Homo sapiens: one gene and its partners. The protein of the gene in region 5 purifies or fractionates together with the protein of the main gene of each other region. This does not show direct contact. Each region holds a gene or a part of one and is shown on either strand. Other genes may lie near its edges. The genes, in order: FBXL16, SLC25A3, DCK, DIMT1, MAP2K3, PIGQ and CEP170.

The links.
Region 1: the proteins of MAP2K3 (region 5) and FBXL16 purify together in Homo sapiens (co-immunoprecipitation; one large-scale study listed by IntAct). This does not show direct contact.
Region 2: the proteins of MAP2K3 (region 5) and SLC25A3 purify together in Homo sapiens (affinity purification with mass spectrometry; one large-scale study listed by BioGRID and IntAct). This does not show direct contact.
Region 3: the proteins of MAP2K3 (region 5) and DCK purify together in Homo sapiens (affinity purification with mass spectrometry, with the first as the bait; one large-scale study listed by BioGRID). This does not show direct contact.
Region 4: the proteins of MAP2K3 (region 5) and DIMT1 purify together in Homo sapiens (affinity purification with mass spectrometry, with the first as the bait; one large-scale study listed by BioGRID). This does not show direct contact.
Region 6: the proteins of MAP2K3 (region 5) and PIGQ purify together in Homo sapiens (affinity purification with mass spectrometry, with the first as the bait; one large-scale study listed by BioGRID). This does not show direct contact.
Region 7: the proteins of MAP2K3 (region 5) and CEP170 purify together in Homo sapiens (affinity purification with mass spectrometry, with the first as the bait; one large-scale study listed by BioGRID). This does not show direct contact.

The regions. Positions count from the first base shown.
Region 1 is NC_000016.10:695,802-699,301, forward strand, and holds part of FBXL16 (F-box/LRR-repeat protein 16), read right to left. Parts: intron 1,619-3,500; 5' UTR 1,605-1,618; coding exon 972-1,604; intron 123-971; coding exon 1-122. UniProt on the Homo sapiens protein: Substrate-recognition component of the SCF (SKP1-CUL1-F-box protein)-type E3 ubiquitin ligase complex.
Region 2 is NC_000012.12:98,596,686-98,600,185, reverse strand, and holds part of SLC25A3 (solute carrier family 25 member 3 isoform b precursor), read right to left. Parts: intron 2,331-3,500; coding exon 2,151-2,330; intron 1,665-2,150; coding exon 1,483-1,664; intron 552-1,482; exon of another isoform or gene 302-551; intron 232-301; coding exon 59-231; intron 1-58. UniProt on the Homo sapiens protein: Inorganic ion transporter that transports phosphate or copper ions across the mitochondrial inner membrane into the matrix compartment. Mediates proton-coupled symport of phosphate ions necessary for mitochondrial oxidative phosphorylation of ADP to ATP.
Region 3 is NC_000004.12:70,996,649-71,000,148, reverse strand, and holds part of DCK (deoxycytidine kinase), read right to left. Parts: intron 2,083-3,500; coding exon 1,967-2,082; intron 1-1,966. UniProt on the Homo sapiens protein: Phosphorylates the deoxyribonucleosides deoxycytidine, deoxyguanosine and deoxyadenosine. Has broad substrate specificity, and does not display selectivity based on the chirality of the substrate.
Region 4 is NC_000005.10:62,393,906-62,397,405, forward strand, and holds part of DIMT1 (dimethyladenosine transferase), read right to left. Parts: intron 703-3,500; coding exon 579-702; intron 143-578; coding exon 50-142; intron 1-49. UniProt on the Homo sapiens protein: Specifically dimethylates two adjacent adenosines in the loop of a conserved hairpin near the 3'-end of 18S rRNA in the 40S particle.
Region 5 is NC_000017.11:21,308,711-21,312,210, reverse strand, and holds part of MAP2K3 (dual specificity mitogen-activated protein kinase kinase 3), read right to left. Parts: intron 70-3,500; coding exon 1-69. UniProt on the Homo sapiens protein: Dual specificity kinase. Is activated by cytokines and environmental stress in vivo. Catalyzes the concomitant phosphorylation of a threonine and a tyrosine residue in the MAP kinase p38.
Region 6 is NC_000016.10:572,968-576,467, reverse strand, and holds part of PIGQ (phosphatidylinositol N-acetylglucosaminyltransferase subunit Q), read right to left. Parts: intron 2,403-3,500; 5' UTR 2,394-2,402; coding exon 1,705-2,393; intron 630-1,704; coding exon 498-629; intron 335-497; coding exon 214-334; intron 1-213. UniProt on the Homo sapiens protein: Part of the glycosylphosphatidylinositol-N-acetylglucosaminyltransferase (GPI-GnT) complex that catalyzes the transfer of N-acetylglucosamine from UDP-N-acetylglucosamine to phosphatidylinositol and participates in the first step of GPI biosynthesis.
Region 7 is NC_000001.11:243,126,282-243,129,781, forward strand, and holds part of CEP170 (centrosomal protein of 170 kDa), read right to left. Parts: intron 3,173-3,500; coding exon 3,079-3,172; intron 2,020-3,078; coding exon 1,968-2,019; intron 458-1,967; coding exon 168-457; 3' UTR 1-167.

The DNA of each region.
Region 1 (3,500 bases), on a different chromosome or scaffold from region 5:
CAGTCACTCACGCTCAGCGAGGTGATGCGCGCGCTCAGGCTGGACCACAGCCCGGCCTCGGTGAAGTCGTTGCAGCCCGACAGCTCCAGACGCACCACGCCCTGCATCTGTTCAAGCATAACCTGCAGGCGGGCGGGCGCCGGGTCAGGATTGCAGGAGAAGGGGTGGAGCCCGCAGGGAGGAAGCAGTAGGGTGTAAACATGCAGGGAGCTGAACCCTGAAAACATTTGGCAGTGTGTGAGGAGGCGGGGCATCGGGACGAGAGCCCAGGGCCTGGCCAGGGCAGGTGCTGGGGGCGTTGGCACCAGCGTTACAATTAGACTCCAGACCCGGCTGCCAGGCGGCTCCTCTGACCTCTACTCCTGGGGGATCCTTTCCCAGCTGCCCCTCAGCTCCCCCTCGCATCCTCCCCACACTGCATTTGTATTTATTTATTTATTTATTTATTCATTCATTCATTCAATCATTTTGAGACAGAGCCTTACTCTGTTGCCCAGGTCCCAGGCTGGAGTGCAGTGGCATGATCTCAGCTCACTGTACCCCCCGCCTCCCGGGTTCAAGCGATTCTCCTGCCTCAGTGTCCTCCCAAGTAGCTGGGACTACAGGTGCCCACCACCAGGCCTGGCTAATTTCTGCATTTTTAATAGAAATAGAGTTTCACCATGTTGACCAGGCTGGTCATGAACGCCTAACCTCAAGTGAGTGGCCTGCCTCGGCCTCCCATAGTGCCGGGATGACAGGCTTGAGCCACCGGGCCTGGGCCCTGCATTTAATCCACTGCCCTGCTGCTGCCATCTTGAAAATCTTGAGTGTCTTTGAACAAGGGACCCACATTTTCGCTTTGCGCGAGGTCCCCTGTAGTCAGTCCTTCTTTCCTCCCACCCCAAAGCCACCATCCGCTCCCACCTCCATAGGGTTGCTGCTGCCCGCCCCTGCCCCCCAGCCCTGTCCCCCCCGAGCCTGGTGCACACCTCGAGGCCTGCGTCCGTGATGGTGGAGCGCTTGAGGCTCATGGCTTTGACACCCTTCTTGGAGAGCGCATAGTTGTCAATGAACTCACAGATGTCCAGGTCGGAGACGCCAACCAGGCAGAAGCCCTCGAAGCCTCTGGCGGCAAAACCCTGCAGGTTCACGAACTCCTTCTCGCCACCAGGCAGCACGTTGTAGAGCTCCTTGGCATGCAGCACCGGCGTGAGGCCTGCCCAGAACTTGGGCTGGTACAGCACGCGCCGCCAGGCCTTGCACACCTGGGCCAGCACACACTTCTCGCAGGCCGAGAAATACCAGAAGAGCCCATTGAGGATCTTCTCGTCCGTGGCCAGCGGCGGCCGCTCCGCTGGGTGCCCAGGTGCCAAGGCTGAGGCTGGTCCACCTGCCGGGGTGCACGGGCCCCCAGCCAGGGCAGCCCGGGACAGTGGAGCAGCCAGGCTGGGTGGTGGGAGGGTGGGTGGGGGTGGTGGCTGGCAGGGGCGGTTCTTGGTGGCTGGCGTGCCCTTGGTGATGCTGGCCGCACCCAGGCCGTTGGGCTGGCCCGGCAGCTTCACCAGACCGTTTCGAGGCAAGCATGGAGGCTTGGGGTCGCCGTCGATGCCCGGGCTCGACATCTTCCTGGCACGCTCTGTGGATGAGGGCCGGGAGGGGGAGTGAGTCTGTTGCTGAGTCTGGAAGGCCGGGGTTGGGGGCGGGTGCAGTGGGGCTCCTTCCCTCCTTGGGCGTCCCTATGGTGCTCCCAGAACCACCAGACAGAGAGGATGGGAGTGCCTGCTTCTCCCTCCCAGACTGTGAGCAGCAACAGGAAGCCAACCATGGCCACTGGCAGCACTCACTGGGCACCTACGGTATGCACTGAGCCCAACCTTCATTGCCCATGGACACCCTCTTTTTCTTTTGTTTTTTTTCTTTTTGAAACAGAGTTCCGGCCGGGCGCGGTGGCTCATGCCTGTAATCCCAGCACTTTGGGAGGCCGAGGCGGGTGGATCATGAGGTCAGGAGATCGAGACCATCCTGGCTAACACAGTGAAACACCATCTCTTCTAAAAATACAAAAAATTAGCTGGGCATGGTGGCAGGCGCCTGTAGTACCAGCTACTTGGGAGGCTGCAGCAGGAGAATGACGTGAACCCGGGAGGCGGAGCTTGCAGTGAGCCGAGATTGCGCCACTGCACTCCAGCCTGGGCAACTGAGCAAGACTCTGTCTCAAAAAAAAAAAAAAGAAACAGTTTCACTCTTGTTGCCTGGAGCGCAGACTGGAGTGCAGAGACAGGATCTTGGCTCCCCGCAACCTCTCTGCCTCGTAGGTTCAAGTGATTCTCCTGCCTCAGCCTCCCGTGTAGCTGGGAATTCGGGCGCCCACCACCACACCCGGCTAATTTTGTATTTTTAGTAGAGATGGGGTTTCTCCATGTTGGTCAGGCTGGTCTCAAACTCCTGACCTCAAGTGATCCACCCGCCTCAGCCTCCCAAAGTCCTGGGATTATGGGAATGAGCCACCGTGCCTGACCGGAAACCTTTTTGTTTGCCCAGTGAGGCGAAGAAACGCCGACACTTTTTAGCACTTAGGTACCATGATGGCCATTTTACAGAGAAGAAAATGGAGGTGGACCTGGTGAGGCCAGGACTGCTCTCTTGACCTCTCTGCTGTGCCGTCCACTGTAGGTACCCACCAGGCCCACCCCTCTGGGCAGGCCAGGGGAACTGAAGGGAAGGGTCTGGGGTGGCCTCTGGCCCCTCCCCTGCAGGGTGACTGCACAGCGCTCAGGAGGGGCTCTGGTGCTGACTCTGCAGCCACCCTCCACATGCACAGGAGCTTCCCTGGCTCAGAATCTACCCAAGGGGCTGGGTGCAGTGGCTGATGCCTGTAATTCTAGCACTTTGGGAGGCTGAGGTGGGTGGATTACAAGGTCAGGGGTTTGAGACCACCTGGCCAACATGGTGAAACCCCTTCTCTACTAAAAATACAAAAATTAGCCGGGCTTGGTGGCAGGCTCCTGTAATCCCAGCTACTTGGGAGGCTGAGGCAGGAGAATCACTTGAATCCAGGAGGCGGAGGTTGCAGCGAGCCGAGATCACACCACTGTACTCCAGCCTGGGGAACAGAGTGAGACTTTGTCTCAAAAAAAAAAAAAAAAAAAGAAAGAAAGAAAGAAAAAGAAAAAAAGAAAAGAAAAAGAAAAAAGAATCCATGCAAAGAAAGGGCGGGCATCTTCCCAGGGTGTGCTGTGGTGCCAGCATGGTTAGCCCTGGACACAAGCTGTCGCTTTAATCTTCTGCCCAATGAGAACGATGCTGTGATAGCTGTACCCACTGCACAGATGAGGAAACTGAGGCCAAGGCTGGGCAAACTGCCTGCCCGAGGTCATGGCCAGATAAGTGGTGAAGCCAAAGTTCGGGCAGAGCTGGCTGAGGAAGGCCATGCGGAGGTTATCTTCAGGCCAGCGACATCCACGCACAGGGTGGAGTGGGAGCAGTCCCGGGCACCCTCCTCAGGCCTCCAGTCTGTA
Region 2 (3,500 bases), on a different chromosome or scaffold from region 5:
TAATGGAAATGATTATTTGTTCATAATTTCAGACAAGTGTGTTCTAAGTAATTCGTACCTATGTAACCTGCTACAAATGTTACAACCAGCTGCTCTGGCTTTGAACATTCACTGCGGGGCTTAGGAACCACAAACTTGTACAGTGCTTCAACAGTACGTTCAAAGCAGGCGAACTTCATCATGGTGTATGGTATCTGTCTCATCCAGAGAGGAGCAACCCCCTTGTAGAATCTAGGAAATCAAGAGACTTGTTTTACACAGTTGCATACACTCATCTATCAGAGACTGTCATTATTAACAGAAATGTCCGCACACGAGTCGAGTCCTGATAGTAACAAATGGCAGCATAAATGCATGTCATTTCTATCAGAACGTTAGACTAACATGCAGGTATATTTCTCTTACATGCCAATGACTCAAGCACCTTTGACTATACAACCAAAAAAGTTGCTGGATGTTTCTTTGACTACTGGAACCACAAGAAACAAGAAGTTTACAAGTGGAACTCAGTTCAAGATTCATCCACAAAGGTGGATCTAAGGAAGCATGTTGTGGTCATGGAAATTCTTAACTGTGAATAGATCACAAGGATACTAACAAGCCCTCCCTAAAAGTTAATAGTAAATGTTTAGGCCAAACATCAAGTCATTTGTAGACCGACAAATGGTCCTTACTCTAGGGAAAAAAAAAAAACTCAGTCCAGGGCTCAAACCATGTATTAACTTATCTTTACCTCTCAAGTTTATGTTCTACATACAGGTAAATAGACATTAAATGTTATAATAGTCTTTTTAAAAAGTCTGGTAGGCTTAATACTAAAAAATGAAGTTCACAGCCAGACGCGGTGTCTCACGCCTGTAATCCCAGCACTTTGGGAGGCCGAGGCGGGTGGATCACCTGAGGTCAGGAGTTCGAGACCAGCCTGACCAACATGGAGTCTCTACTAAAAATACAAAATTAGCCAGGCGTGGTGGTGCATGCCTGTAATCCCAGCTATTCAGCAGGCTGAGGCAGGACAATCACTTGAACCTGGGAGGCGGAGGTTGCAGTGAGCTGAGATAGTGCCATTGCACTCCAGCCTGGACAACAAGAGCAAAACTCCGTCTCAAAGAAAAAAAAAAAAGAAGCCGGGTGCGGTGGCTCACACCTGTAATCCCAGCATTTTGGGAGGCCAAGGTGGGCGGATCATGAGGTCAGGAGATGGAGACGGTGAAACTCCGTCTATACTGAAAAATACAAAAAATTAGCTGGGCGCAGTGGCAGGCGCCTGTAGTCCCAGCTACTTGGGAGGCTGAGGCAGGAGAATGGCGTGAACCCGGGAGGCGGAGCTTGCAGTGAGCCGAGATCACGCCACTGCACTCCAGCCTGGGTGACAGAGCGAGACTTTGTCTCAAAAAAACAAAACAAAAAAAAAAACAAAAAAAAATGAAGTTCACTTAAAATAAGTACTTTCATAGTATAAATTTTTAAGTGTTTACTTACGCTTTTAGGCCTTCTTCCTTATACATTTTGGGAGCTGCATCCCTCAAAGTGTTGGCATAACCTGGCTGGGTTTGAATTCGAACCTTAGCAGCTTCCATAGGAGCCAGGGCAATGTCAGCAAAGAATTCAGCACTGGCAGAGGCAGCCAAATATAGTGATGTGCGCCAGAGATAAGTATTCTCCTAAAATCCAAAACACAAGGAAGGGATGTGAATTGCTGTTGTGTTGGTTTTCAATTGAAGTGACAGTTCTAGAAAACAACTAAGCTTCAGACATTTTATAAAGTAACACACGATGATATGGAATATATATGTGGTCTCATAACCTCATTAACAAAACACGTAACTATGTGAACAACATGAATATTCAAAAAATATCTAGATGCCATGCCCCGGAACTACGCAAAGGAGTCCCAGAGCCCTTCTCTAAAAAACTCAAAATCCAACTTACTTAGAAAACAAGATAGTATATTAAAAGGAGAATTGTAATTTAATGAAATACATTTATCAACCTGTCTCTGCTGACACAGGCATACGATTTAAAACAAGTTGCTCACTTTGTAGGACCATTTTCTTCAGTGCTAAAATAAGGCAAGACAGACAAAAATCTAAGAACACTCGGAAAGTCTTAAACACTCGGAACATTCAATTTTAAAGTTAATTACATACCTCTCCAAGCATATTGCTATACAAGACTTTAAAGACTTCATAAAAGCCAAACTTGCAGAGTCCCTGCATGGAGTAGCCAAGGAAAGTCGGAGCCCATCCTTTAGCCAAACCACGAACACCATCCTCTTTAAGTGTAACTGAGAATCCGTTAAATATGCCCTTGTACTTTTGGGGGTCCACCTTTATTTAAAACAAGAAAAAAAAAATTAAATGCACCAAACAGCTAACATAAAAATTTAATCTCATGATTATTTTTGTTTGGGTTCCATAATAAATTTCAGCAACTACACAAAAGGTAACTACAGTAATTCCTGCCAGGCACGGTGGCTCACATCTGTAATCCCAGCACTTTGGGAGGCTGAGGCAGGTGGATTACCTGAGCTCAGGAGTTCAAGACCAGCCTGGGCAACACAGTGAAACCCCATCTCTACTAAAATACAAAAAATTGGACGGGCATGGTGGCGTGCACCTGTAATCCCAGCTACTCGGGAGGGTGAGGGTGAGACAGAACAATCGCTTGAGCCTGAGGGAGGGAGGTGGAGGTTGCAGTGAGCCACGATGGCACCACTACACTCCAGCCTGGGCAGCAGAGCAAGACTCCATCTCAAAAAAAAAAAAAGAAATACAGTAGCTCTCCCTTATCCAAGAGTTCATTTTCTGTGGCTTCAGTTATCCAAGGTCAACTGACATCTGAAAATATTAAGATATTTTGAGTGAGGAACTACATTCATATAACTTTTATTAGTTTATGCTTATCACTGTTTATTATTGTTCATTTGATTACTTTTATAAATAGAAACTGTTGTACATTAAGGTCTAGCTTTCTGTGTCAAACCTAAGTCTTGGAGTGATAGTTAAGAGGGTAAAATTTCAACAAAAGCTTTCTGTGTCAAACTTAAGTCTTGGAGTGATAGTTAAGAGGGTAAAATTTCAACAAAAATACGTAACAAAACTGATTCTTAACAGATTTCTTACCACCCAACTCCTACTACTTTTTTTGTGTTTTTTGTTTGTTTGTTTTTTGAGTCTTGCTCTGTAGCCCAGGATGGAGTGCCATGGTGTGATCTCAGCTCACTGCAACCTCCACCTCCCAGGTTCAAGCGATTCTCCTGCCTCAGCCTCCCGAGTAGCTGCGACTACAGGCACGCCACCATGCCCAGCTAATTTTTGTATTTTTAGCAGAGATGAGGTTTCACCATGTTGGCTAGATTGAGTTCTGATCTCGAACTCCTGACCTCAAGTGACCCACCTGCTTCGGCTACCCAAAATGCTGGCATTCCAGGTGTGGGCGACCATGCTTGGCCCACCTCCTACTTTTTAAAAGCTACTGTCTAGATAATAGATATAACT
Region 3 (3,500 bases), on a different chromosome or scaffold from region 5:
TCATAAAAACTCTGAAGAAAACATAGGCAATACCATTCAGGACATAGGCATGAGCAAAGACTTCATGACTAAAACACCAAAAGCAGTGTTAACAAAAGCCAAAACTGACAAATGGGATCTAATTAAACTAAGGAGCTTCTGCACAGTAAAAGAAACTATCATCCAAGTAAACAGGCAACCTACAAAATGGGAGAAAATTTTTGCAATCTACCCATCAGACAAAGGGCTAATATCCAAAATCTACAAGGAACTTAAACAAATTTACAAGAAAAAAAAACAAACAACCCAATCAGAAAGTGGGCAAATGATATGAACAGACACTTTTCAAAAGAAGACATTTATGCAGCCAACAAACATGAAAAAAAGCTCATCATCACCAGTCATTAGAGAAATGCAAACCAAACCCACAATGAGATACCATCTCACACCAGTTAGAATGGTGATCATTAAAAAGTCAGGAAACAACAGATGCTGGAGAGGATGTGGAGAAATAGGAATGCTTTTACACTGTTAGTGGGAGTGTAAATTAGTTCAACCACTGTGGAAGATAGTGTGGCGATTCCTCAAGGATCTAGAACCAGAAATACCATTTGACCCAGCCATCCCATTACTGGGTATATACCCAAAGGATTATAAATTATTCTACCATAAAGACACATGCATATGTATGTTTACTCCAGCGCTATTCACAATAGCAAAGACTTGGAACCAACCCAAATGCCCATCAATGATAGACTGGATAAACAAAATGTGGCACATATACACCAAAGAATACTATGCAGCCATAATAAAAGAATGAGTTCATAACCTTTGCAGGGACATGGATGAAGCTGGAAACCATCAATCTCAGCAAGCTAACACAGGAACAGGAAACCAAACACCGCATGTTCTAACTTGTAAGTGGGAGTTGAACAATGAGAACACATGGGCACAGGGAGGGGAACATCACACACCAGGGCCTGTCGGTGGGGTAGGAGGCAAGGGAAGGGTTAGCATTAGGAGAAATACCTAATGTAGATGACGGGTTGACGGGTGCAGCAAACCACCATGGCATGTGTATATCTACATAACAAACCTGCACGTTCTGCACATGTATCCCAGAACTTAAAGGATAACAACAAAAAAAGAAATTTTTATGAAAAAGAAAACTTTTATACTTTACTTAAAGTGCATAAATCTTGAATGCATAGTTTGATAAATTTTACTTTCCTTTTTTTTTTTTTGTTGAGACAGTGTCTCATTCTGTCACCCAGGCTGGAGCACAGTGGCGCCATCTCAGCTCACTGCAACCTCCGCTGCCTGGGTTCAAGAAATTCTCCTACCTCGGCTTTACAAGCAGGTGGAATTCAGGTGCCCACCACCACGTTCAGCTAAGTTTTGTATTTTTAGTAGAGACGGCATTTCACCATGTTAACGAGGCTGGTCTTGAACTCCTCACCTCAAGTGATCCGCCCGCCTCAGCCTCCCAAAGTGCTGGGATTACAAGCGTGAGCCACCAACCCCGGCCTCAATGCATGTTTAAACATATAGTCACCCCTCAGTAACCTCAAGAATTGATTCCAGGTTCCACACAGATACCAACATCCACATATACTCAAGTCCTTTATGTAAAATGGTGTAGTATCTGCATATATCCTCCCAAATAGTATAAATCATCTCTAGATTACTTATAATACTTAATACAATGTAAATGCTATATGAACAGTAATCCTTTATTATTTGTATTTTTTTGTATTATTTCTTTCTGAATATTTTCTATTCATGATTGGTTGAATCCATATCAATCTGAAACCCATTGATATGGAGAGCCAACTGTATATATATCCATGTAACCACCACCTAGATGAAGATATATACCTAAAGCGAGATTTGAAAGTTTTATTGAAAAAGAAAAAGAAAAAGAGATTAAGTACTACTGCTCCTCTAAACCAAGAGGCTTTTATCTACTTAAATTTTATTTTCATACCTCAAATTCATCTTGAGTACTTTGAACATTGCACCATCTGGCAACAGGTTCAGGAACCACTTCCCAATCTTCACACAATTGTTTAAGGATATTCACAAATGTTGACTTCCCTGCAGCTGTTGTGAGGAAAGATAAAATTGAGGAAGAAAAGTTGTCAGGAAAAAAAGATGTCAAGTAGTCATTAGCTTTTGCAAGATTTACAATAGCAAGCAACATAAAAAGCCCAAAACATTCAACTTTCTAAACTTTCTCTTCATATTTCTTTAGAAGAAAATGAAAAGGCTCCCTGCCCAATTTCATTAAGCACATTTGTTTTTTATTACGTTTAGTTTAACAATATATTATATTTAATAGTAGGGACAGTCTTGACCTAGAAGTAATACTCCTAATGGCCACCACACCCTTTATATCTGAAGTCACCAAATGTGGTTGTATTAGACATCTCTGGTTAGCATAATGTTCTCTCTCTTTCCCTGTGTGTGCGTGCACACACACACAGATGAACATATAAATAACTTCAATATACTTACAAGCAAAGCTTCCTCTTCCTTATAAATTAGATCCATGGGGAGTAGAAAGAACTTACCTTTGACTTGCAGAACTATATTTAAATCTAGGACATTAGACAGGGCAATAGAAAAGAAGAAAAACCTGGAAGAACTTTAAAGAATTACACACAGAGAAAAAACAGGAGCGAGGCAGTAAAGAAGGTGACACAGGTAGACAGTTTAGAAGAAAAACACAAAGTAAACTGTATCCAGAGGAGAGGAGAAAAACTTTTAACGATAAACTGGATAACAGTGAGATTTAATCATGGTAAAAACACTGGCCACCAAAATTTAGTATGGAGAGTGTAAGCTTAGGGACTGTACAGCATTTAGAAGAATGTTAAGTGGAAGTGAAAGCATATAGAAAGAACACCCCACATTCACTGAGCTAGATGGAAGAGGGAAAGGAGAACATGATGTTCAGAAATAGCACCCAAGGAACAAATAAAAAAATTAGGCATCCACCAGAGTCTGAAAGCACTTAAGGCTACAGCATTCAACTTTCTTCTGACACTGCTTACAAGCAGAAAAATTCATATGGTCATACTTAAAAAGTCTAAGAGTAATAACAGTTACATTTAGTTCAAGCAGAGTAATAACAGCTAGAGTTCCCAATCACACTAACACATCTAGTTCCTTAACTTATTGGGGCAAAGTGGGAGCTAGAAAATAAGCTAATTAATAAATTAATTTTCTATGAAGGCAAAGGAGAACAAGAACCAAAGACACTGATGTTAATACTTTAAAAAGTCATGGAAACTAACAGAATTCCTAATGCCAAGCAGGCATTATAATGCTGAAAGTCATTCTGAACAGACTATTAAGATGAGAAGCAGGTAAGTCCTCCATCAATCTAACATAAGGGAACATTTGAGTAACACAGAACATAAGAAGATGGGTTATATAAATATAAAACTAAAACGACCAAGTAAAGTTCAAATTCTAGGAAAAATAGAGGAATTGCAAAATAGTTTACGCACAGCTTA
Region 4 (3,500 bases), on a different chromosome or scaffold from region 5:
GCCTGGACTTTTTTTTCCTTTATTGAATGAGCTAGTATTTTAACCTCACCTGAAAATTGATGGGTGGTGGTGGATTCTTAGGTTCTATCCTTACAACACTGGATTCCACCTTGGGCGGTGGTCTGAAGTTATTCTTTCCCACCTGTTAATGAAAAAGTATTTAAGTAGTACTCACAAAGGCAACTTTTATTTAGTAACCAGATATGCTATCCTCACAGAAGGCACAACTGGATGCTCAAGGATGAATTAAGCTAGATTATTTCAATAATAAAAATCACTGGCTGGGTGCTTTGGCTCACACCTGTAATCCCAACACTTTGGGAGGCCAAGGCAGATGGATCATTGAGCCCAGGAGTTCAAGACCAACCTGGGCAACATAGCAAAACTCTGTGTCTACAAAAAATACCAAAAAATTAGTCAGGCGTGGTGACGCACACCTCTAGTCCCAGCTACTCGGGACTCGAGAAGATTGCTTGAGTATGGGAGGCAGAGATCGCAGTGAGCCACTGCACTGCAGCCTGGGTGACAGAGTGAGATTCTATCTCAGAAAAAAGAGAAAGAAAACAAAATTCACTTACTTTCATTAGATGGTCCACACGTGCCAACAGCTGTGTATTAATTGAGAGTCTGCAGTATAACTTATCTCCAGGTTTTGCAACCAGTCGGAGGGCAAATTCTCTTTGAAACATAAGTATAGCACACCTGAAAAGAAAGCAGAAAGGAATAAGGAAAATGGTCATTGTCAACTATAAATGAATTTTAACTGCAATGAATTTTCTTGGGAGAGAAATAGCAAAGCATTGGCAGCTGATTATAAGGTAGGAGAACACATTCAGCCTTTTTTTTATTGCCACAGAATGAGAGAGCTGGCTTTGTTTTTATAATTGCTGTACTCCTCATGGCAAGATAGCTTGCAAATATAAGCCTTTAATGACTGGATGAGATGTTTCAAATCAGCACTAGTCCATCACCTCTTCTATGAAAACAAAGTGAAATAAAATTGTTTCAGTAGCAGTAATATATTTATGGGGTAGCAAACACCTTTAAGGAAGAGGTGAGACTGAAGAGGCAGATTGTGACGTTCAATGTTTCCTTGATTTGACGGGTTAAAAGATGTAGACTTTTTTTTTTTTTTTGAGACGGAGTTTCGCTCTTGTCGCCCAGGCTGGAGTGCAATGGCGCAATCTCGGCTCACTACAACTTCCGTCTCCCAGGTTCAAGTGATCCTCGTTCCTCAGCCTCCCGAGTAGCTGGGATTACAGGCGCACACTACCACCCCTGGCCAATTTTTCTATTTTTAGTAGAGACAGTGTTTCACCATGTTGGCCAGGCTGGTCTGGAACTCCTGACCTCAGGTGATCCGCCCACCTCAGCCTCCCAAAGTGCTGGGATTACAGGCATGAGTCACCACACCCAGCCAAAAGATGTAGACTTTTTATTCAGCAGGCAATGGGGAAGACTTTGTAGGGGTTAACGAACAGAAGAGTATCTTCAAAGCTACACTTTGACATTCAAACTTTTGACAATGAGTCACACTAAAAATACATTTGGCATTGCAAGCCAAGCCACAAATGTCTGTATGTATATGTGTTTATATTGTATTTCAAAACAAAAGTTTCATGAAACCATAATCACCTGGACTACATGCAATGCCCTGTGATATATTCTATTCCATGTGATTACAAAAAAAAAGAATGGTCATGACTCATTAATTTTATAACCACTAGTTTTTGACTTGCAGTTTGAAAGCCACTAGTATATAATATAGAAAGTGACTTCAAAGTTCATGGAAATATTGAATTAAAAGATAAAATAAGGCTGGTGTGGCGGCACACACCTATAATCCACAGCACTTTAGGAGGCCAAGGCGGACAGATCGCTTGAGCTCAGGAGTTCAAGACCAGCCTGGGCTGAACATGGTGAGACCCCTTCTCTAAAAAAAACACAAAAATTAGCTAGGCATGCTGGTACACCCCCATAGTCCCAGCTACTCAAGAGGCTGAGGTAGGAGAATCATCTGAGCCCAGCCCAGGGAGGCTGAGGTTGCAGTGACCTGAGATGTCACCACTGTACTCCAGCCTGTCTCAGAAAAAGAAAAAAAAGAAAAAACATAAACTTTATTATTCAACATAAGCTCCATCAAGTTCAAGACACTTTTGTAAGTGATGATACCAGCATTTTAGTCTATATCAAAAAAACTGAGGCTCTGGGGAATTTAGCCATGTCACTGCAGGTTTTTTTTTTTTACATTATTAACTGAAGAAAAAAGAGTGCCCTTTCAAGATTTTTTAAGACTGGGAAACGAAAATAAATCAGAAGGGCTGGGCACCATGGTTCATGCCTGTAATAATCCCAGCATTTGGGGAGGCTGAGGTGGGCAGATCACTTGAGCTCAGGAGGGGGAGACAGCCTGGGCAACATGGCAAGACCCATCTCTAAAAAAAATACAACAATTAGCTGGGTGTGGTGGCACATGCCCGTAATCGCAGCTACTTGGGAGGCTGAGGTGGGAGGAATGCTTGAGCCCAGGAAGTGGAGGCTGCAGTGAGTGCAGATCATACCACTGCTCTCCAGCCCGGGCACCAGAGCAAGACTGTCTCATAAAATAAAAAGAAGTCAGAAGGGGCCCAATCAGGACTGTAAGGTGGATACCTAACCATTTCCCATTGAAACTCTCGAAAAATTGCCCTCGTCTGATGAGAGGAAGGAGTAGAAGTATTATGGTGGAGGAATCTCTGGGGAAGCTTTCCCAGGAGTTACTCTGCTACATCTTAGCTAACTTTCTCAAAACACTCTTGTAATAAGCAGATGTTTTCATTCTTTGGTCCTAAAGAAAGTCAGCAAGCAAAATGCCCTGAGCATTCAAAAAAAAACTGTTGCTATGACCTTTGCTCTTGACTGGTCTGCTTTTGCTTTGACTGGAGCCACTCCGTTTCTTGGTAGGCATCACTTTCACTCTGCTTTGTCTTTAGGATCACACTGGTAAAGCCATATTTCATCTCCATTACAATTCTTTGTAATTCTTTGAAGAAATGTTTCAGGATCTTGTTTTCTTTTTTGACAATCTCGCTCTGTTGCCCAGGCTGGAGTGTGGAGTGCAGTGGCACAATCTTGGCTCACTACAACCTCCGCCTCCTGAGTTCAAGCGATTCCCCTGCCTCAGCCTCCCGAGTAGCTGGGATTATAGGTGCCCACCACAATGCCCAGCTAATTTTTTTATTTTTAGTAGAGATGGGGTTTCACCATGTTAGCCAGGCTGGTCTCCTGACCTCAAGTGATCTGCCCGCCTCGGCCTCCCAGAGTGCTAGGATTATAGGTGTGAGCCACTCCACCCAGCCATGTTTCAGGATCTTGATCCCAGTTATGTAAAATTTCCACTGGAAGCTCTGCTTTTATCTGCAGCTGATTTGAGTACAATGTTTTTTGTTTTGTTTTTTCATAAAATCTTTCAGAAAAGAGGGTATGACAGTTTTGGCATCTATCAAGTACAAAGTTTGTTT
Region 5 (3,500 bases):
CACCTGCTTCAGCTGCTGGAACGGGGTCCCCCAGGACTCGTAAGGGAACCGCAGGATGGCCATCTCAATCTGCAGCGGGGACAGGGGGTCAGAGGCCCCGGCCCCAGATACAACCACGCTCTGCACCCAGGAGCGAGGGTTGGGGGCTCCCACCCATCCTGGTACCAGAGCCAGGCGTCAAAGCTGCACAGCTGATCTCCCTACCACATCCCAGCAGAACAAAGGCGAGAAAGCCGGGGATGCCAGCTCTTAGCTCCTCCGACCCAGCCAGCAGGACCCAGCTCAGGAAGCAGATTCAGCCCACACCGGGACTGGTGGGACCATCATAGGGTTTTCAGAAAACCTGAATTCTGAAGATTTTACAAAACAATGCAGGTTCCAGCTGCTCTGGAAAAATCTGAGGAGCTGGCAACTTTGGGCCGTAGCCTCATGAGCCAGGTGGGCAGGTCCCAGGTGGTCACAGCCAATCCCCTTCCTAACATCTGACCATCTCAGACTTCAGCATCTGCTGTCATTAATTTGGGCTGTTTTCACAGAGGAGGCACATGGGAAATGCTACACACACACACACACACACACACACACACACACACACACACACAGCTGTCTCCAAGGCCGCGGACAGAGTGTGAGACCATGAGGCTGCTTCGCCTCTGCACCCGTGAGCCTGCAGCCTCATCTTCTGCAGGGCCCCAGCAGTTTCCCTCCTAGACAAGTGGCCTGTGTGGCCACATGTGCCCTGCTGGATCCAGATTTCCTGTGGGTGACATCGGGCCGGTGGGTCTCTGTCCTCGCTCCAAGCTCCCAGCCCTGTGGTTGGCAGGAAGTCATCATGGAAGGGACGGACTAGCTAGCTTACAACCAACTCTGGGCTCCAATCATGATGACTGGATGGAAAAAACAAGTTATGTCAGCCCTGGCCCCGGCCTGGAAGAACAGAGAATTCCGAGGCTCCAGCACAAGGGCCCTCACTGCCGGCCGTCATCACCATGATGAACGGAAGAGACCTCAGCACAAACACTTGGCACTGGCAACTGGAGCCCGGACAAGACCCTAAGGACTGTGCTGAGACTGTGCCTCCCATCAGGCTAGAGGCCCTTTCCAGCTCAGACAAACACACCCACACAGGCAGGGCCCACTGCGTGTGTGTGCATGTGTGCATGCGTGTTCACAGGACAAAACCGTACCGATTTGGGGGGCTTTTCTCTTAGAATTTTCACTGACTGCAATATGTAGAGCAAGTACCCCATACGAGCTACAGGAGAAGGACCAGCGGCCATGAGAGTTATAATTAGAAAAGCAGAAGTGTCCAAACCTTCAACCTCGTACTCCTTTATTTTTTCTAAAGAGCTCAAAAAATGAAAAACAACAAAAATAGCCTCCAGACACGAAGATGTGCCATATGGTGTTTTCTGCCAGGAAATACTAAGAAACAGCCTGAATGTCCAGCGCCAGGGGCCGGCCCCACCATGGGGGCGGAGACCCAGCCAGGACCGTAGTCGCACCCCTGTGACTCCCCAGCGACAACACTAACAGGCCAGCACCCAGTCAGCACTTGCTCCTGGCCAAGGGCCATCCCCGGCATGACCCCTGTCTGTTCTGGGTGATTCCCACTGGCATCCTGAGGCTTGTGCAGTGAGTGGGAAAAAGCCAACGCCAAGAGAGCTCTGGGGCCCTTGCAGGATGGGGGGAGGCCGAGGCCAGAGCCCCACCCAGGGGGACTCTCCCGACTCTGTTTCATCAGTCGCTCCCCCAGGATGGCTGAGAATTTGAAATGGAAGGAAAACAGCAGGAACAAGGGAAACAACCCACATCAGCAGACAGGGTGACTGAATGGTGGCAGATGGTTATGGAGTCTTTGGAAGGGATACATACAGGAGTCTATTATAATTTAGAGAAATTGGCCAGGTGCGGTGGCTCACACCTATAATCCAAGCACTTTGGGAGGCCGAGGCAGGCAGATCACTTGAGGTCGGGGGTTCGAGACCAGTCTGACCAACATGGAGAAACCCCATCTCTACTAAAAACACAAAATTAGCTGGATGTGGTGGTGCACACCTGTAATCCCAGCTACTTGGGAGATTGAGTGAGGCAGGAGAATCACTTGAACCTAGGAGGCAGAGGTTGTGGTGAGCCGAGATTGCACCACTGCACTGCAGCCTGGGCACCAAGAGCAAAACTACATCTAAAAAAAAAAACAACAAAAAAAACAAAAAACAAAAAAAACAGAGAGAGAGAGACAAATATGAACAACATGTAATGCTACAAAATTTTTTTTAAAAAGTTTTTTAAAAAGAAGCATTACGAGGCCAGGCGCAGTGGCTCACACCTGTAATCCCAGCACTTTGGAAGGCCAAGGTGGGTGGATCACGAGTTTGAGACCTGCCTAGCCAATATGGTGAAACCCCATCTCTACTAAAAATACAAAAATTAGCCAGGCATGGTGGCGCACGCCTGTAGTCCCAGCTACTCGGGAGCCTGAGGCAGGAGAATCACTTGAACCTGGGAGGCGGAGGTTGCAGTAAGCCGAGATCGCACCACCGCGCTCCAGCATGGGTGACAGAGCGAGGCTCTGTTTCAACAACAAAAAAAGAGAAGCATTACATATTGTTTGTATTTCTCTAAATTTTAATAAAACGTATTTTATTATATGTAATAAAAATATTATATATATAATATAATGCACAATGTTGGCACTGAAACGGGGTAAGAGGTGTCTCTAGGTAGAATAACTACAGTCATTTTCCCCTTACTGTGCCTCTATTTTTATGTTAGGTTTCCACTACGTTTGTAACTTGTGAAAGAAAAACCTAACCTGTGCCTAAAGTGACCACCTCCGCCTCCCGCTGTGTGCACCTGCTGATCCTCCATTAAGCCGGGAGCATTCCCTGCCCTTGAACCTGGGCTGGCCTGTGACTCGCTGACCAACACAATGAGGCAGAAGTGATGCTGTGCCAGTTCCAGGCCTAGCACTTCAGAGAACTTCCTTTTAGATGCCAGCCATCATGAAAGAACTCCAACTCTGCTGACACTGCCATGCTCTGAAGCCCAGGGAGCAGGCCAATGTGAGTAAGTTGCATGGAGAGGCCAGGCAGAGGAGGCCCATGTTTGTGAGGCCGTCTTGGGCCTTCCAGACCAGCCCAGCCCAGCCATGACCCCAGCCAATCCCAGGTACAGCAGAAGAGCCATCCAGCTGAGCCCAGCCACAGTGGTGGAAACATGAGAAATAAGAAACCGCTGTTGGTTTGGGTCACTAGGTTCTAGGGTGGTTTGCTATGCAATATTTGATAACTGAAATATACACTTAGCACACACTTGTCCAAGTTCCACCAGCCATATCAGAAGGCCACTAGCCATGGTGGCCCCAACAATCATGATGGATGGACAACTGGAAGGGAGACAGGGAGATGGGGAAGGGACATAGGGTGTGTGTATGTGTGAGGTAGTCATGAGCAGGGTCTCTAATATCCAACCAGTTCTGTGCAGTCTAAATACAGCAA
Region 6 (3,500 bases), on a different chromosome or scaffold from region 5:
AGGAAAGGGGGGTGTACCTGCGAGGCCTGCCCTGCCCAGGCCCCAGCGCCCCTGGAGTTCCTGCTTCTGGTTCAGGGGAGGGCCGTGTCTCCAGAGCATGGAGAAGGTAGAACTGGCTTTGTGGGGCGGTGGCTCTGGCCCGGGAAGGCTCTGCTGCCCAGGAGGGGTCCCCACGCCCACCCGGGACACCGGGCTCCACCCCAGTCCACTCACGTCAGCCACAGGAACGAGGGCGTCGGCCAGATGCCCGATGCGGCTTCTCCCGTGGAGCCAGGACAGCAGCATGAGGCCCAGGGCCACGTCCAGCAGCACAGAGGCCACCGTGTTGGCCTTCCTGGAAGGGAGGTCCGGCCCGGCCGGCATGAGGGTGGCCAGCACAGCCTGGGGCCGCAGGAGGAGGCCTGCCTGGCCGGAGGGGTCAGCGTGGTGCAGAGGGGGATGGAGAAGGGGCCAGAGGGCACGCACCCAGCCCTGCAGAGACCAGGGCAGGCCCACACCTCATCAGCTGGGCAGGGTTCTCCGCCTTCCGTGTACTGAAGATTAGCGTGAGGTGCTCCAGCCGGTGCCGGAGCTGTTCGCACGTGGAGAGTTTGCTCCCGAGGAAGGACAGGGGCCAGAGCTTGAACACTCTGCGTGGGAGTGGAGAGGAGTGATGTGTCCCTCTCCAGATCCTCCTCCCACCGTCCCCCACTGTGCAGGGGACCACAAACACCCAGGCCACACTCCTGAGCTCAGCAGGACAGGGGGCAGGTGGGAGGGGCCCTCGGTGGCCCAGGTGGTGGTAGGCAGCGCTCAACGCGCCCACCTCACAGTGCACGTGACTAACACGGAGCCTGGCCTCCTCGCAGGTGCTGACCCCGGGCCACCTGGTCACCACATGCTCCCAGAGCCGGTGCCAAGAAGCGCCTGCCAGCCAGCAGCAACTCCCACGGGCCCAGGGCCTCGCCCCGCCGACAGGGCCCAGAAAGCTGCCCGGGGTCTCCTGGGCTGGCCTAGCTTCTCACCCCAGGCTTCCAGAGTATGCACCCCCGGGTCTAAGGCAGGGGGCAACTGCAGGTGACCCCTAGCTGCTCCCCATGGGGCACCTCCGCCAGGCAGATGAGGTCCCCTGTGGAAGGGGGCCCTCTGTTCTCAGCCACAGCTCGGGGCTACCCCCGTGCCCCTCAGGGCCCTTGGGCTTCAACTGACCCTTGGCCAGCAGCACCTGTGATTGTGGAGAGAAGCAGGGCCTGTAGACCACTCCCCCAGGCACACGGGGCCAGCAAGTGGATGACACCCCCACAGCCCATGAGCGCTGCAGTGTCCAGAGGCCTGCTGGGGGCACAGGCAGGGCTACAGGGAGGCCAGCGGGCCTGTGTGCCCTCAGGAGCACCCCCAGGCAGCAGTAGTCATGTCTGTGCTCACCTTCTGATTTCTCTTTCAGGGACCTAAGCCACTGAGGTTCACCCTCTACACCTTCTGGGAGGGCCCCTGGCAATCCCTGAGGCTGCCCAGAGACCTGGCTCTACCCCAGGGGTGAGGGACACCCTCTGAGAGGCGAGGGTTGGGAGAGCAGGATGGGGCCAAAGCCCGGGCTGCAGGAGTGGGAGGGGGCCCGGGCCCAGGAAGAGCGCATCTGGGCCTCTGTGCCCACTGCAGACAAAGGGATGGGCCAGCACTCATGGGACCCCACTCTTTGCCACCTGCCTGTCCCGGGACACCTACCGGCAGGCACTGACAGCTGAGACCAGCGACAGCAGGCTGGCCAACAGCAGGCAAATGGGTCCCGAGGCTCGCCTGGCCAGCTCCGCGAGGATGCTGGCCTCCACGCCCTCCGACTGCCAGTGGCTCAGCCGCACGGGGCCCTCATCAAAGCGGTCACTGCGGAAGAGCACCTCACTGCGTGCTACCGTGTCGAAGACGGCAGCCAGGCCCCCCGTGCTGGCAGTGGTGGCTCCAGCCTGGCGGTCGGGCAGGACGGTGGGCAGGTGTAGCTGTGACAGCAACACCTGGCGCTGGTCATAGAAGATGAGCATGACCTGGTCCTCACCAGGGGCACCGGGGGCAGTGGGCGCTTGCCGGTGGGTGGCCTCGCAGCTCCAGAACGTGCCGCCTCTCTCCCGGCACAGCCGCAGCCAGGGCTCATGGGGGAAGACAGCACCCAGGCTCTCCAGGAAGCGGCCCAGGCTCTCCTCGGGCTCCTGCCGGCAGTGGCACCAGGTGCCCAGCACGGCCACGCCCACCTGGCTGGCCTGCCGCACCTGGGCCAGGAGCTGCTTGACCTGGATGGGGATGAAGGGAAAGTGCAGGACCGCCAGGACCACGGCGCTGCTCTGCTCCGGCACCCACCGTCCCACCAGCAGCCCGCTGTCCGTCGAGACGCAGCACGTGGGGAAGAAGGCCTTGAGCACCATGCCGGGAGGCTGGAAGAGAAGAGGAGAGGCTCGGCTCAGAGCTGCTGCTGCCCCCCCACCGTGGGCTGCGGGATGTTGCACAGACGGCCTGACAGGTGCAGCCACAGGGCCCCAGGTCGGGGCACCTCAGCTTCAAGTTCGGTGGTGGACGCCGTAGGGCTCCTTGGCTGCCGCCTCGCGTGGGCCATGCTTCTCCAAGGGGCAGCCAGAGTGCTGGCCCCAAGTCCACCCCAGGCCCAGCTCAGCCCCACCCGCACGAGGCAGGACGCACATGCAGCCACCAGGCCTGCCCTCCCATTTCCAGGCCGGCCCAGGGCACGGCCTCCTCGGCACCACCTGACGCGGCTGTGGGGCCGAACCGAACTCCAGGCTTCTTAGTTTTAAGAAACCTGATTAGAGAGGTGTGCTTAAAGGTGTAGCACGAGGAGAACTGTACAATCTCATTAGCAAGGTCACGCCAATTGAAACCTTGACAAACCATGATTCACGTATTAAGCAAGAATAAAGATGAAAATGTAAAATGATGTGCTGCTGGGCTGTGGAAACTACCTCGTGCGCACGGCGGGCAGCCCCCCAGAAGGTCCCTGCCTCCCACAAGCCCCTCCCTGGGGGCAGGAAGGACCTGCCTCGTTGCTCAGGGCACACAGGGCTTCGGCCTCCACTCTGACCCCCGCCCACGGTGGCACCCGGCAGTGCCTGGCCCTCCCTGACATCCCCACAGCCACCCCAGGGCAGGGCTCCCTCAGGGAGCATTTTCTCTCCAGGATATATTTCTCCAACGACATGGGTGCCTAGAAACGGGGAGAGAGAGGCTTACAGGTCCCGGAGGTGTGGAGAAACTGCATCCTGCACTCTCAGGCTGAGGGACACCAGCCTTCCAAGGTGGCTGTTGAGTAGGAAGCCACCTGAGCTACCGCGGTTCCCAGGCCCTGGGCCTCTCCTCCCCCTTTCTCACAGGCCCCTGCGGAGCCATGCAGCCAGCTGGGGCTCCTTCTCCACTGATGCCTTCCCTGGCGGGGCCCCACAGGGCAGGAGGACTCCCTAGCGGTGGGGGCACTACTGGCCGGCTGGCTGGGCCGCTCGCCTTCCTCAGACACAGAAAGCCCC
Region 7 (3,500 bases), on a different chromosome or scaffold from region 5:
TTGATATACTACATTATACGTCAAAAATAAATAAATAAAATTAAGAAGACAGGGATTCCAAGATTGTAGCTGACCAAGCTGTCTTGTTTTGCGTACATCAACACTATGCTGCTTCCAATATTCCTAGCCATTCCACAGGTAATGATTTTTCAACAATCAAGAGAAAGTCATTCTTGTACTGTAACATCTTCCTCTTCCCCATCGGGGTTGAATCTATTGAAATGTATACTGAAATCAGCCTCAGATTCAGCATTCTCAAATTCAGCTGCGGCTGAAACAGCAGCAGGATGAAGAGCCCTAGCTTCTGGTTGGCCAAGTGTTGGTGTCTGACCCGGGCTGTGGTGGTTATTCACAGGGCTGGACTTCTGTTTCGGTGGAGATGGCAACATAGCACTGGGAAATCCCATGTTGTTCAGAGCCTCCAAAGTTCCATCAGGATCAATCATAGCATTGATTGCTAAAGGGCGGGAAAAGGAAATAATTTTAGATGCAGTTACATTCACATATAAACACTGTTCATGATTTGGATAATATTTAAACTATCAGTGCGTATGTGATCTTAAATGTGGCTAATCTTCCAATATTATATTTAAAACTCCATTCTTAGTTATTCTGTAGCTGTACTGTAAATCACCCAGCCCTGAATACTTTCTCTGGGTCCTTTGATGTGGCACTTACGGGCATTTCAGAGACTTGTAAGTCTGGTATTTGAAGATGTGGAATTCAAGAAAAATCTTGTTGAAATTTGTCTTCATTATTGTGAGAGGACCGAGAAAATACTGAATATGATTTTTAATAAACATCTAAACCCACATCACTCAGATAACTGAGGTATTAGCTGCTAAGTCAGGGTTCAGAGTAACCTCAAGGCTGGAGAGGCCAGAAGAACATCAGCATACTTTGAATGCTACCATAGAATACGGTCATTTAGCCTGGCCAGAGTGCTAGGGTTATCAGCTGTATACACCACTGAGATACAGGGGTTCCCTCAGAGCCTACAGACTAATATCACAGGGCAGCTTGCAAAGCCAAACAGACTTGCTGCCTATATGGAAGGGGTCAGTTAAAGGTCAGCTTTCAGTCCAAAAGATCTTTGGGTTGACATGGAAAGTTCTCAGGCGGTGATTTTCAATTTGGCATTGGGCAGAGTAGGGAGTTGGGAGAAGGAAGTAACATAGATGTAAGAATCATGTAGAAGGGACTTTTAAAAGTATACCCCCAGTCTACCAGCTAACAAGCACTGTGTTAGCAAGCCACTTTTACTCATGGGGTGTACCATAACCCTTAGGTGTGTTGGGGCTAAATAAAGATGAAAAATCATTTTGATAGGATCCACATAAGTACCTATGATTATTCGATAGATAAAGACTCAGTAGAATTAGCAGTTGACTATGGAACCTGCCTGTTGTACCACTGGGGACTTCTGGGTCAAGACATACATAGGCATTAATGCACAGCCCAGCTCTGACAAGTTTAGAGGGCAGCCTCTTTCACTTTCTTCTCTCCTTTCTCTTCTGGTCTCTATGGCCAATATGTACTCATTTCTTGTCAACCAAACAACTATTATTTCTATTAGAATGTAAGTTTGTTTCAGGTTACACCACCAACATAATTTAAGAACTGTCAAATCACACAAATAATGCTAATTAACACAACTTTATTATATATTTTTCACATATTATTTATATGTAATACATAAAAAATTTCAATTAGTTTATGACATCTAGCCTACTGTCAAACCTATGAACTAAAATATGCCCAACATATATCTTTATTACATTTTAAATTTTTATACTGGGTTTAAAAAAATTCCTTTTTATGAATAATGTGAATGTTTGAACTCTGTATTTTATGTATGTCATTACATTTAATCAAATAACATCCTAACAATATTTTAAGAAATACCACTCAGAAGGCACTTATTCTAAATTATTAGCTCTTTATACTTAATTCAGTAGTAAATTTACCTTGCAGCTGCTTTTCTACTCTTTTCAGTTCCTGTAAGATAGAAGAAATCTCCTGCAGGGAAAGCAATAACAAAAATTAGCCTACTTTTAGCTAAATGTTATCACTTTACAAGCAATGAATTTCACTCTCACTTTATTTGGAACACTTAATATTATCTACATGGTACTTACTACATTAATAGCAACATGATATGAAATAATTATGATATCTAGCAAACAAGATTCAAATTAAAATATTTAAACTAAAATGAAATACAATAACTTTTTCAGTGAGATGATTGTAGCAGATGAAAAGTTTAACATTTACTACTATTTAAGCAAAGATTTTTTTTTTTTGAGACCGAGTCTCACTCTGTCGCCCAGACTGGAGTGCAATGGCGCAATCTTGGCTCACTGTAACCTCCTCCTCCCAGGTTCAAGTAATTCTCTTGCCTCAGCCCCCAAAGGAGTTGGGATGATAGGCGCCCGCCACAATGCCTGGCTAATTTTTGTATTTTTAGTAAAGACAGAGTTTCGCCATATTGGCCAGGCTGGTCTTCAACTCCTGACCTCAAGTGATCCGCCCTCCTTGGCCTCACAAAGTGCTGGGATTATAGGCGTGAGCCACAGTACCCGGCCGCAAAGATTTTTAAAATTCTTATTAATCAACCTTGCAATAACTATGTAAAAATGCCTTCAAATTATCTTTGTAAAAACATATAAACTGCAACCTCAATATTATAATTATATTCTGAGCAATGAAAATCTGTACAAATTCTTTTAAAAAGAAGATAAGCATTATATTAAGTAAACGGAAACGACTTATGTCAACTTAATATTTTCATGTTAGATTTGGTTCTCTTTAAAAATTTCATGTTTCTAATGTTTAATTATTACAAGAACAATCTATACTAGTAAGAAACACAAAAGGCTCCTCCTTCATACCCTCTGCAACTTTGAAACAATCAACATTTTAAACCTGTGAGTCAGTAGAAGAAATAAAATTTCCCAAAATTTTGCATTTATATCTTCTTTTGAAAAAGCAAATCAACGAACAGCTCAAAAATAAGGGTCTTTTCCTTAAAATAAAACTCTATTAAAATGTTTTAATCTTCAAGAAAAATTACTATACCATGCTTGAGGTTTTCACAATAGGGACTTCACTTTCGGCTCTTAATTTGCTTTCTATGTCATCCCAATTCCGATCTTTGTCTTTAAATAATATTCTATAAATCAAAAAACATAAGCATATAACTTTTTATATTTTAAAAACCTATTACTTTTTTGTTAATAATACCAAAGCAATGTATCTTTTCAAAGGTACACAAAGAAAAAAAACCAACCACCGCATAAACTGAGAATTAAAATACTAAGCCAACAGTACCAATTAATTCATGTGTATGAGCTCCAATTGAATGCTTATTAATACATGCATAAATTCTTTACTGTTTATCTTATTCTTTATTGAAAACAAAATATAAAACAAATGTAAATGATGTTATGACCTCAAAACTTTAATATTTATAATTTACAATACAGTAATGCCCTCTTATC